Homo sapiens: one gene and its partner. The protein of the gene in region 2 interacts with the protein of the main gene of each other region in a biochemical or structural test. Each region holds a gene or a part of one and is shown on either strand. Other genes may lie near its edges.

The links. Proteins that work in one complex are often made in the same cells at the same time.
Region 1: the proteins of TLR4 (region 2) and TNC form a complex in vitro, tested with the Homo sapiens proteins (one study listed by IntAct).

Annotation. Positions count from the first base shown.
Region 1 is NC_000009.12:115,107,332-115,112,463, reverse strand, and holds part of TNC (tenascin isoform 1 precursor), read left to right. Parts: intron 1-912; exon of another isoform or gene 913-1,035; intron 1,036-5,132. UniProt on the Homo sapiens protein: Extracellular matrix protein implicated in guidance of migrating neurons as well as axons during development, synaptic plasticity as well as neuronal regeneration. Promotes neurite outgrowth from cortical neurons grown on a monolayer of astrocytes.
Region 2 is NC_000009.12:117,720,591-117,726,055, forward strand, and holds the end of TLR4 (toll-like receptor 4 isoform A precursor), read left to right. Parts: 3' UTR 1-4,145; downstream 4,146-5,465.

The DNA of each region.
Region 1 (5,132 bases), 2.6 Mb from region 2:
GGCCAAGCAGGGGATTCCCCTCAACCTTATTTCAATGAAAGCCCCTCCACTTATCTATTTTGTACACTGAGCCTCCTCATGAAATTTTATTTGATGAAAGGGCTCTGTGCAGAAAAAACAGAATGTTTTTGTAAATTGCTGGCCTAGGTTAGCATACCTCATTTTAAAGAGGGTGAAACTGAGACATAGAGAAGGGAAAGATCTTTCTAAGATCTTCCGCCAGTTGGCAACAGGGTCAGGTTGGAATCCTAGGTCTTCTGACTCTTGCTCTTGGAAGCCAGGGACAATCTTAAAAGTTTCAGAATTAAGACATTCTTTTAGAAAAGAAAAATGAGCAGAGTCTTATTCTCTCAACAGCCTTAACTCACACGGACCGAGCCAAGGATGACTAGTATCTCCGTATTCATTATCTATTACTGCATACCAAATTACTTTAAATCAACACTCATTTATTATCTCATGGTTTCTAGAGGTCTAAGCACAGCTTAGTTGGATTTTCTGCCTCATGGTCTCTCATGAGGTTATTGTCTGTGTTGGACAGGGTTGATGTCTCATCTAAAGGCTGAATTGGGGGATGATTAGCTTCCAAGCTTGTTGATGTGGTTGTTGGCTGGACTCCATTTCTTGAGAGATATTGAACTGAGGGCCTCAGTTCCTTCAAAGCTGTTGGTCCAAGGCTACCCTCAGTTCCTTGCCACATGGGCTTCTCCAACAAGGCCATTTACATTAACAAAGCCAATGAGAAAGAGAGTTACCGGGCATGGTCGCTCACACCTCTTAATCCCAGCACTTTGGGAGCCCGAGGCGGGTGGATCACTTGAGGTTAGGAGTTCGAGACCAGCCTGGCCAATATGCTGAAACCCCGTATCTACTAAAAATACAAAAAAATTAGCCTGGCATGGTGGTGGGCACCTGTAATCCCAGCTACTCAGGAAGCTGAAGCAGGAGAATCACTTGAACTTGGGAGTCGTAGGTTGCAGTGAGCCAAGATCGAGCCATTCCACTCCAGCCTGTGCAACAAGAGCGAGATTCCATCTCAAAAAAAAAAAAAAAAAAAAAAAAAAGAGAGAGAGAGAGAAAGTCTATAAGCAAGAGGCACATCACAATCCTGTGTAACCTAATCATGGAAGGGATATTCCATCACCTTAGTCATATTCTGTTTGTTAGAAGAAAGTCACTGGGCCATCCCACACTCAAGGGGAGGTAATTGCACACGTATGAGAATGCCGGGAGGCAGTATCAATGGGGCCACCTTAGAGTCTGCCTGCCACAGCCTCCAGCACTCCAGTGTCACCAATTTCTGGCAACCTCTTATCAATGACAAGTTCACTCAACCCTTCAGTACCCTCACTGATGAGTAATAAAAAAATTGATCGAGACCATGGTGAAACCCCGTCTCTACTAAAAATACAAAAAATTAGCTGGGTGTGGTGGCGGGCACCTGTAGTCCCAGCTACTCAGGAGGCTGAGGCAGGAGACTGGCGTGAACCTGGGAGGCGGAGCTTGCAGTTAGCCGAGATCACACCACTGCACTCCAGCCTGGGCAACACAGTGAGACTCTGTCTCAAAAAAAAAAAAAAAAAAATTCTGGCAGCCACTAAAGTGGACTAGTTTTTATTTAACATCCTCCCATGTATATAGTGGAGCCAAGTGTTTTGATTAGTTGTTTTAACTCATTGGTTAGCCATAATTTCTCTTGAATTTCACCCCAGGGAGGGGCCTTTCACGGCAATGATTCCAAATGTATTTTATTCTAAAGCAAGACAGTCAGTGTGACCAAAACTAAAACTCATCCATTGTTCCTCCCTCAATCTATTCCTCTCAGCAGATATAATGAATAGTAACATCTTCGATTAATTCTTTTTTCTTTACTAACCCCACACACAAAATGTTGTAGTCTCTACTGCCTTGACAAGCAAATCTGTTCACTGCCTCCCCACTTTCTTGATCACCACCCCCTGCCCCACCTCCATTACCCCTGTAGTTCAGATCTTAGCATCTCACAGATGGGCCACTGCAACAGCTTTCCCACTGGCCCCCAGCAACCCAGCCTTCCCCTTCTTCAACCTGAGACATAGAGGTTAACATTCCTGGGCCTCAAGATTTCCAAATGCTTTTCTTCTGCCTGCAAAAAAGTCCAGATATTCTGACATTCAAGATTCTCCATGATCTTGCTTCTGGTCTCTAAACAGATCCTGTACTTCAGCTGTCATTCATACTGTTCACATCAACCCTTTTATTCTTTTTATATCCTTGTAAATGCCATTCCCTCGTGCCTAGAATATCCTTTTTTATGTTTTTCACCTATTCATATTTTTCTCTCAAAATTCAGTTCAGGCACCACTTCCTCCAGGTAAATTAGATGCCCTTTTACTGTCATCTCATTCTACCTATGTTTCTTTTTTTAAATCTATCATCTCCTTTATCATCCTGGAATGGCCTGTCTGCCCCTCTTGACAATATAGTTCCTAAAAGAAAAAATTGTATCTGGTTTATCTGAAACCTAGCACAACTGGAATAAAGTTAATCTTTAGCAATTAATAGGAGTCCTTGCTGTGTCCCAGATTTGGACATCCTCTTCCTTAGCAGTTTGCTCAGAAAGCCCAGAGCTTGAAGTTGTTTTCACGCTTCACCCACTGGCTTGCAAGTATGCAGTGTGATGACACAACATGTGATAGGAGGAAACCATCCCAGCCCTAGGACAGGAAACTGTCTCAGGACACAGACCTCAAGGAATGTGTTTGCTTTCAGAGGTGGCCTTCAGGATAAAAACACAAATTGCTTTGGATTTGGAAAAACCAGTACCAAGGACAGAGGAGTCCTGTCTGGGGATTTGAGGCTGAGTCACAAGAGATAGCTGAAAATCTGGAGGTTATAACAAAGATTAGTCAACAACTAATAGGAGGAAAGAACAGGCTCAAGGGTGGGATGGAGACAAAGAGCTCTCTATCTTAGGACATGGAGAAGCTCACAGCCCACAAGAAGAAATGAATAATGGTTAAGAGTATGACTTTGGCATAAGAATCCTCTGGGTTTGAGAGGTATTTGCTTGCTATGTGATCTTGGCCAAGTTACTTAGCTTCTTTAAGCTAATTTCTTCTTATCCATATTAAAAGCAAAGTAGTAGCACCTAGTTTAAAGTTTATTGTGATGATTAAATGATGTAGTTCATGAACACTGCTTAGCACAGAAACTGGCATTCAATATAAATGTTTTGTTGTTGTCATTGTTTTGTTACCTGTTGATCAAATAGTTCTTGATGATAAGATCCCACTAGAGAAGCAGTTCCCAAAAGTGTGTCATGTGGAAAAGCATTCTCATGGGAATCACCTAAAAAAGGGTTTTGTGGCCAAATGAGTTTGGGAAACACTTGGTACTCTTCTGTTCTTGGAAATGCACAGCTCATATGTCCATTCAATACATAGTTTTAGGGCTGGTGATACAATAGAAAGCAATACAGTCAAGATCCTTTTATTCATGGTGTTTACATTATGGTGGCATATCTTAGTTTGTACAAGCTGCTACAACAAAATACCATAAACTGAGTGACTTACAAACAACAGAAATTACTTTCTCACAGTTCTGGAGGCTGGGAAGTCCAAGATCAAGATGGCACCTTATATGTCCTCACATGGCAGAAGACATAAGGCAGCTCTATGGGGTCTCTTTTAATAAGGGCACAAATTCTATTTATGAAGCCTCTGCCCTCATGATCTAAGTACCTCCCAAAGACTCTGCCAACTAATATTGTCACACTGGTGATTATGTTCCAATGTGTGGATTTTGAGGGAACACAAACATTCAGACCATAGCAGGGGGAAGGCAGACAATAAAAAGGAATCACATAAACTTATAGCACAATTTCAGGTAGTGATATTTGCTAAGAAGAAAGACAAAACAAGGTAAGGGCATAAACAATGACTGGTGGTGAGAGGAGTGCTCTTTTAGATGGGGTGAGAGGTGAATGTGCCATTGTGCAGATGTCTGAATGAAATGAGAGAAGGAGCTCTGTAGGCAATGGCTAGGAGTTTGAATTTCATTCTGAGTGTGGTTAGAAGCCAATGGATGGTTCAGGGAAGTAGAGTGCATCATCTGAGATATCTTGCTGTAATTAATCTGTTCAACTTTCGTTAGCCCAGTATCTCCAAACATACCTGACCATAGGACATCTACCTAAAAACATCTTGCAACGTAGTCTGGGAAATTCTTCACTGGAGCACAAGGCTTCATAGATTTTAAAGGGACTGCAAATTTGCTCTTGTTCATCTAGATCTGCACTAAAAATCCAAACATACTGCTTGGGACAAAATAGGCATGCCCAGGAAGGAAAACCTAGCTCTAGAGGTAGAGACAAGCAGGATGTCATCCTAATTAGCAGCTCTTTTTGGCAAAGACAATCAATGAGCACAGCCAGGCCTCAGCAGATTCTGGAAGCCCATTTGATGCCAACGGAAACTCGCCAATATCTACCCAAGGCTAATAAGTGTTTGCAAACAGTACACCTTGGCTTAAGTATTCTCCAAAAAGGAAGTACATAAAACTTGAGATCCAGCCAGAGGTTCTGGGAGAAAAACAGAGGTCAAATATTTTGGTGCTTACATGTGCACAGCCACCAAAGAGCTGCTGAAGGTCTAGGAAATGGAAAGTGAGTTCATCCACTTGAATGCTGATCTCTTTCTTTATGGAGCAGTAAAAATTTAAGTTTTTACCTTATCTGAACTAAGAAAATTCCTTTAGGAGTCAGCCCAGTGTAGCTCAATGTAGTTGAAAGCAGACATTTTAGAACCACAAATAAATCAGGATTCAAAAGCTGGCTCTGCCTCTTAAGCCAGTCATGGAAACTCCCTGAGTCTCAAATTAATTTTCAAATAAGCATAATAATACCTAACTCACCAGGTTGTCATGACAAATGACAAGATAAATGATAGCATGAATAAAAAGCATTTAGTGTAAGATTTGGCATAAAAATGTATATAATAGGCACTCAACAAAATGTTAGTTTCCTTATTGTTCAATTCAATCTGTATTTAGTTTCATAATAGAAGCTGTCATTTATTGAATAACTACTATATTCCAGCAGAGGTTAGCAAACCATAGGGTGGCAGCCTATTTTTGTAAATAAAGTTTTATTG
Region 2 (5,465 bases):
GAAGTGTTTTGTTGAAAATTAAACTCACGTTTAGGAGAAAGGATTGTGTTGTATGCTCCTAGGAAACTATCTCACTATGTAATTAAATCAAAACCAGCCAGTTACCAATTTGAGCTCTTGACTCATACTAACAACACCCCATTTCCCATGGGCCAAGCAAGGCAGGACTGACCTGAAATAACCCAGCCTGACTCTATCCACAGCCACCCCAGGACCTTGCCCCTCCGTCTTCCTAGGGCTCGGCCGTGAGATGCTAGTGCATGACCCTTCCTCTTCCTGGGACTGTCCTTGTCTTTCCCTTTGGACTCTGGGAGGTCTGTTCTCCTCCTCAGAAAGGAATAAACACTCTTTCTATTTGTGGGATTCCCTAGGAGACACTATATAAAAATATAGAGTTAAAAAAACTATTTAAAAAAAAGACAACTTCATGTCTCTACTCTGACTTCATTCTTTTTAAGATGGGTAACAAAGACTCTCTTCAAGGTTAGAAAATTTTATTTTAATTTTTATAGATTTAGAGAGTGCAAATGCAGTTTTGTTACATGAATATATTGCATAATGGTTTAGTCTGGGCTGTTAGCGTAACCATCAACTGAACAGTGTACTTTGTACCTATTAGGTACTTTCTCATCCCTTAACCCCTTCCCACCTTTCTGAGTCCTCAATGTCTGTTATTTCATTCTCCATGTCCATGTCTACAAATTATTTAGTTTCCACTCATAAGTGAGAGCATGGATGGAACTGGAGAAGAGTATTTTCTATCCCAAGATCGGTTCCTTGATCTTGTGTCTCCAAATCACTTGCTCTCTCTCTTACATCTTTTCTATCTTCTTCTAGCCTCTTTTTGCAAACTTCATTTTGACAAAGAATTCCAGGCAGTCTACAGCTGATTTTATTTCAATACAACGATTAAAATGGAAACCATATATGAAGATGACAAAGTTGAGCAGGTCCCAAACTCTCACTTTTAAACAAATGCTTGGCTTAAGAATCACTTAATGACTTTCATTCTGCTATCTATGTGTCTGTGTATCTAGGTACTAATTATCTATCTTTATGATCTTTATTGCTAGAAATTCTGGTTCAATATCAGAGGTTAGTCCTAAGGAATTTATATTTTAAAATATTCTCCCAGTTTTCGTGCACAGACAGATTTGGGAATTACTGTTATAATGGAAAATGGAGAATAACCACCCACATTTAATATGGTTATTGGTTTTGTTCTTGAGATTTATTGCTAAGATTCATGATAGCCCAGGCAAGGTCAGATAATGTATTTTTATTTTACACTGTATAGTTGATTCTTCTCAATCCCACTAGATCAGACTCTTTGGGATACTAGGATTGGCCTATTTGATGGTGAGCTCACTACATCCATTTAGATGTTGTGTCCATGCAATCATTTTAGTTCTCCTAGTTTCTACCTATCACGTTGTCATTTTCCCTTCTTTATCATCCTGGGTAGCTGAGACCCCACATAAATATATACCAGAAAAATGTTGTGGTCTTTTCTAAACTCTCTGAGGCATCTGTTGTCAATGTGATGTTGTTTTTTGTTTCCAGTCCAAAATATATCAAAGTAAAATTTAACTCCACTTTTGCTAAGTATTCATCTTGCCTTGAGTACTAAGATTCCAAAAATGACTTTCCCCTCTGAAAAACACAGGATTTCCTTGCGAAAACTTGCTGGGCCACTGCCAATCTTCCCAGAAACTCCTTTTTCCTTATCGTTGAGGGGAATTGGGGAAGTGATCACTGACGGTTGAAATTCAGTAGTTTTGGTCTTTAAGCTGAGACCCTGAGTCTTCTGAGGAGTCTACTGCTCCCCAGTGGGAAACACCTGCTGTCAAAATTTTCCTGCTTGCAAAGAGCACTTTTGAAATTAATGGCAGGGGATGAATATCTGGCTAGTGCTGTGCTCAGCTGAGTTATTAATAGGGCCTTCTGAGTCCTCTCTACACATCATCTTTGGCTGAATTAGCTGTGGTTTCAGCACCTGAGAGTCTAGCACCACTAAAGGCAGGGAATACCTTTGCCAGTTTCTGGCATATTAACAGCTGAGATCAGATAAGTGAACAGCGATAGAGGTAGTGAGGTTTAGGATTCAGGTCTGCCACCGGGAGCGCACCTCTGGGCTCAGGTCTCTCATTTGTAAAATGGGACATTTAGGTCAGATCAGCATTTTCAAAAGTGTGACATGTTAGTAAATAAGATGATTTTATGTGGTTGACAGATGAATGTATTACCTTTAGTGGTTATATGTTTATTTTCATGGTTACTTTTATTTATAATAAATTTTGTGACTAGCTAAGAATCAATTATCTCTTTAAAATATATTTAAGTTTAAAATGTGGGCCAACTTAGGAAAAAAACGGGATGAAATGAATTATATAAAAGGTATGCAGATTTGGAAAAATTTTGAAGGTGTCACAAGAAAGATTGGCAGTCAGAAAGGAATGAACCAAACGGCTGCTGAGGGTCAGGCCAGCTCTCTGACATTCTAGCATGTTCACATCTCCAGGGCTGTTTCCTTACCTATAAATTGTGGCAATTGGAGTAAATGTCCATTCCAGGAATTCTATTCTATGATTAGAGGTGTAACTTCATCATCCAGATTTTCCAGCATCCTTAACATGTGGTTTTAGCGTTCTAAACCTGATGATGCTATATCAAAACGGGAGACTCATTCGTCAAGTCATGATGTATCCATGTATTTATAATATTTCCCATGTTCCCTCATTTCTGAAAAGGATTAAGCTATCAACCCCATTGAGTTATAGGTGAAAGGCTGTGGAAACAAGACATTGATAGTGAAATGGCTCCACCACTAACAGGCTGTTGAACAAAGGCAAATCTCTTGATCTCTTTGCTCTTTGGTCTCTGTTTATCTATGAGATAACGTTATTTTTACGCTGTCTTCTGTGAAAGTTTTGAGAATGAAATGAGACAGAGCCTCCAATAAAATTTAGGGAAGTGCTACATAAATGCAAGGAGTTATTATGATAACAGATTGAAAACTCCTCCAAGGAGGAGTTTCTCTTTTGCCCCATGTTATAAACTCAAGAATATCTTCCATTTTGCCTACATATTCCAAAAGCTTTTAAATTAAGCTATATGTCATTCTTACAGGAGTCTCCTCTATTTCAGCAATGTGTATACTTGGTCAGTTTTAATTATCTTAAAGGAGAAGAATACAGTTTCTCTAAACTCAAGCACTTTTGTGGACTAATCCTTGCAATTATTCTTTCTTCTTTCCCATACTTGACATTTAAAGTGATATCTCCCAGGCTCCTACACTGTTAGTCACAGAGGTACCATTCGACCCCTTGTGCCTCTTACCATATGTGAATGCTTGTCAGTTGAGAGTAAACTTTCTTCATAAATTTCACAGTTGTGGATTGATAAAAACAGAGAACTCTGGTTCCTCATTCCTTCCTGCTTTCTTTCTTGAAATGCCATTCATGATGGTCCCTTATATCACTATAGGGCTGCTATCATCCTTCATCCTTATGCCACTGCAAATAGCAACCAACAGTGTCCTTAGTGCCAGCACTCCCAGGCATGCCCCTTTCCAAGCAGCAGGGTCAAGCCGCTCCCTTCCTGAGCTGTGGCATCTGTCTCTAAATCATGCTTCCTCCTTGCCTGCTGCAGGCCCTTGTCTCTGCCCTTTACTTTTTCTGGCTCTTGCCACGGTTTTGAATAAAACTCTTCCAAATATCTGAAGCTCAATTCTGTTGCCATTCTAAGCTCTCTAAATGTCACCACAATCTTCCTTCCTTTGCATTTTCTTATTGTGCACTAAGTTAGTTCTTGCTTAGTAAGTCTTGTCTTTCTCTCTGCTTTGACCTGTCAGTATTCCAACTTCCTTATTTTTTGATGTTCATTTTCTCCTTGCTCTCTTTCTTCCTTTCTTGTCTGTGAACTCCATTAACCGCTTCTGCATGTGACCATTAATGTGCCTGTCTTTCTTCTCATGTATTAGAGAGAACAAAAGCTTTGGGAATCAGACAGATCTGTGTTCTGATCCTGTCTTATGGTATCTGTCTTGTTTGTCTCGGCTTAAAATGGGGATAATATCTACCTCTCAGTTTTGTTGGCAGTTCAGTACACGGAAATAAAGTTCTCACTTTCTTTTTTCTCCTTGAGAGTGTTCTTTATTTTACTCATCTGGCCATCTAATATTTATGAAGAAGCTACTCTGTGGTTGAAAAGGCACATGAAGCTGCAGAAGTAAATGACCAAGAAGTGCCCTCAAAGTTACGGAGTTCAGATTCATTTTGGCAAGAGAGGCATGTCAATACACACACACACACACACACACACACACACACACACACACACACAATGTTATGCCAAAATGCAGGGTGGTGGGGAGTGGAGGGTTGTTCTTCCTAGAAGCAATCAGAGAAGGCTTTACAGAGGAGGGCCCATTTGAGCTGGAAATTGTAAAAGAACAGCTCTGCAGATGGATCTTTAAATTCTTAACCTAAAAGAAGAGCAAAAATGTAAATGATAAATCTGGGAAGTAATAAGTAGAAGACCATGTATAGCAGAGTTGAGGAAAGAAACAATATAGTATAAATACTGAATTACATGAAAGCTAATAGTTAATTGGCATCAGTTGACCCTGACAAAGACATTTATCTGGACTATGTCTCAATTTGCTTATCTGTCAGTTAAGGATGATATATTAAATGAGTGCTTATACAAACAAAGTGCTTAAAACAGTGCAAGGCACTTCACAGTCATCAAAAATGCTAATTTTTTGTGTGCTTTCATTATGAAATGGGGAGCATACAGCCCGACAGAAGCCTAGGTAATGTCTCAGCATTAAGCCCACTGGTTTGTGGTGCCTTGCATTTAGGAGGCCCAAGTCCTTATCCTGGTGTTGATACAAACTTCCTGTGTGACACTGGGAAGCTATAACTCAGTCTTGACATAATACAACTTGTTCTTCGGCTTCAAAAACTTTCCCAGAATTGGAGTGACCCTACCCTCCCTTTCAAGAAACAGACAAACATCCTAGAATGTTACAACATAAGGGTTGAAGAAGCTGTTGTTAAGTGATCATCTTGTTACCACAAAATTGTTAAACTGCATAACAGAGTTATGCAATTTCTTCTTCCCCTATTTTTTATTTTATTTTTCCATAAGGTATTGGTATTTCATTACATGAGTAAGTTCTTTAGTGGTGACTTGTGAAATTTTGGTGCACCCGTCACCCAAGCAATATACACTGCACCATATTTGTAGTCTGTTATCCCTCTCCCTCTTGCCACTCACAGCATTTGGGGTGTCTTCTGGGTCCTGCAGGAGCAGTCCACTTCCTTGAGAGGTTTTGTGGGTCCTCTTGGGAATGTTGGTTTGTTCTTGCAGTCAATTTGGAGCTAAAATTCACAATGCAAGCCTCTGGATGCTGCTCTGTCTGGAGCTGCAATCTAGTCCTGACTCCTCTCTGCCATGAT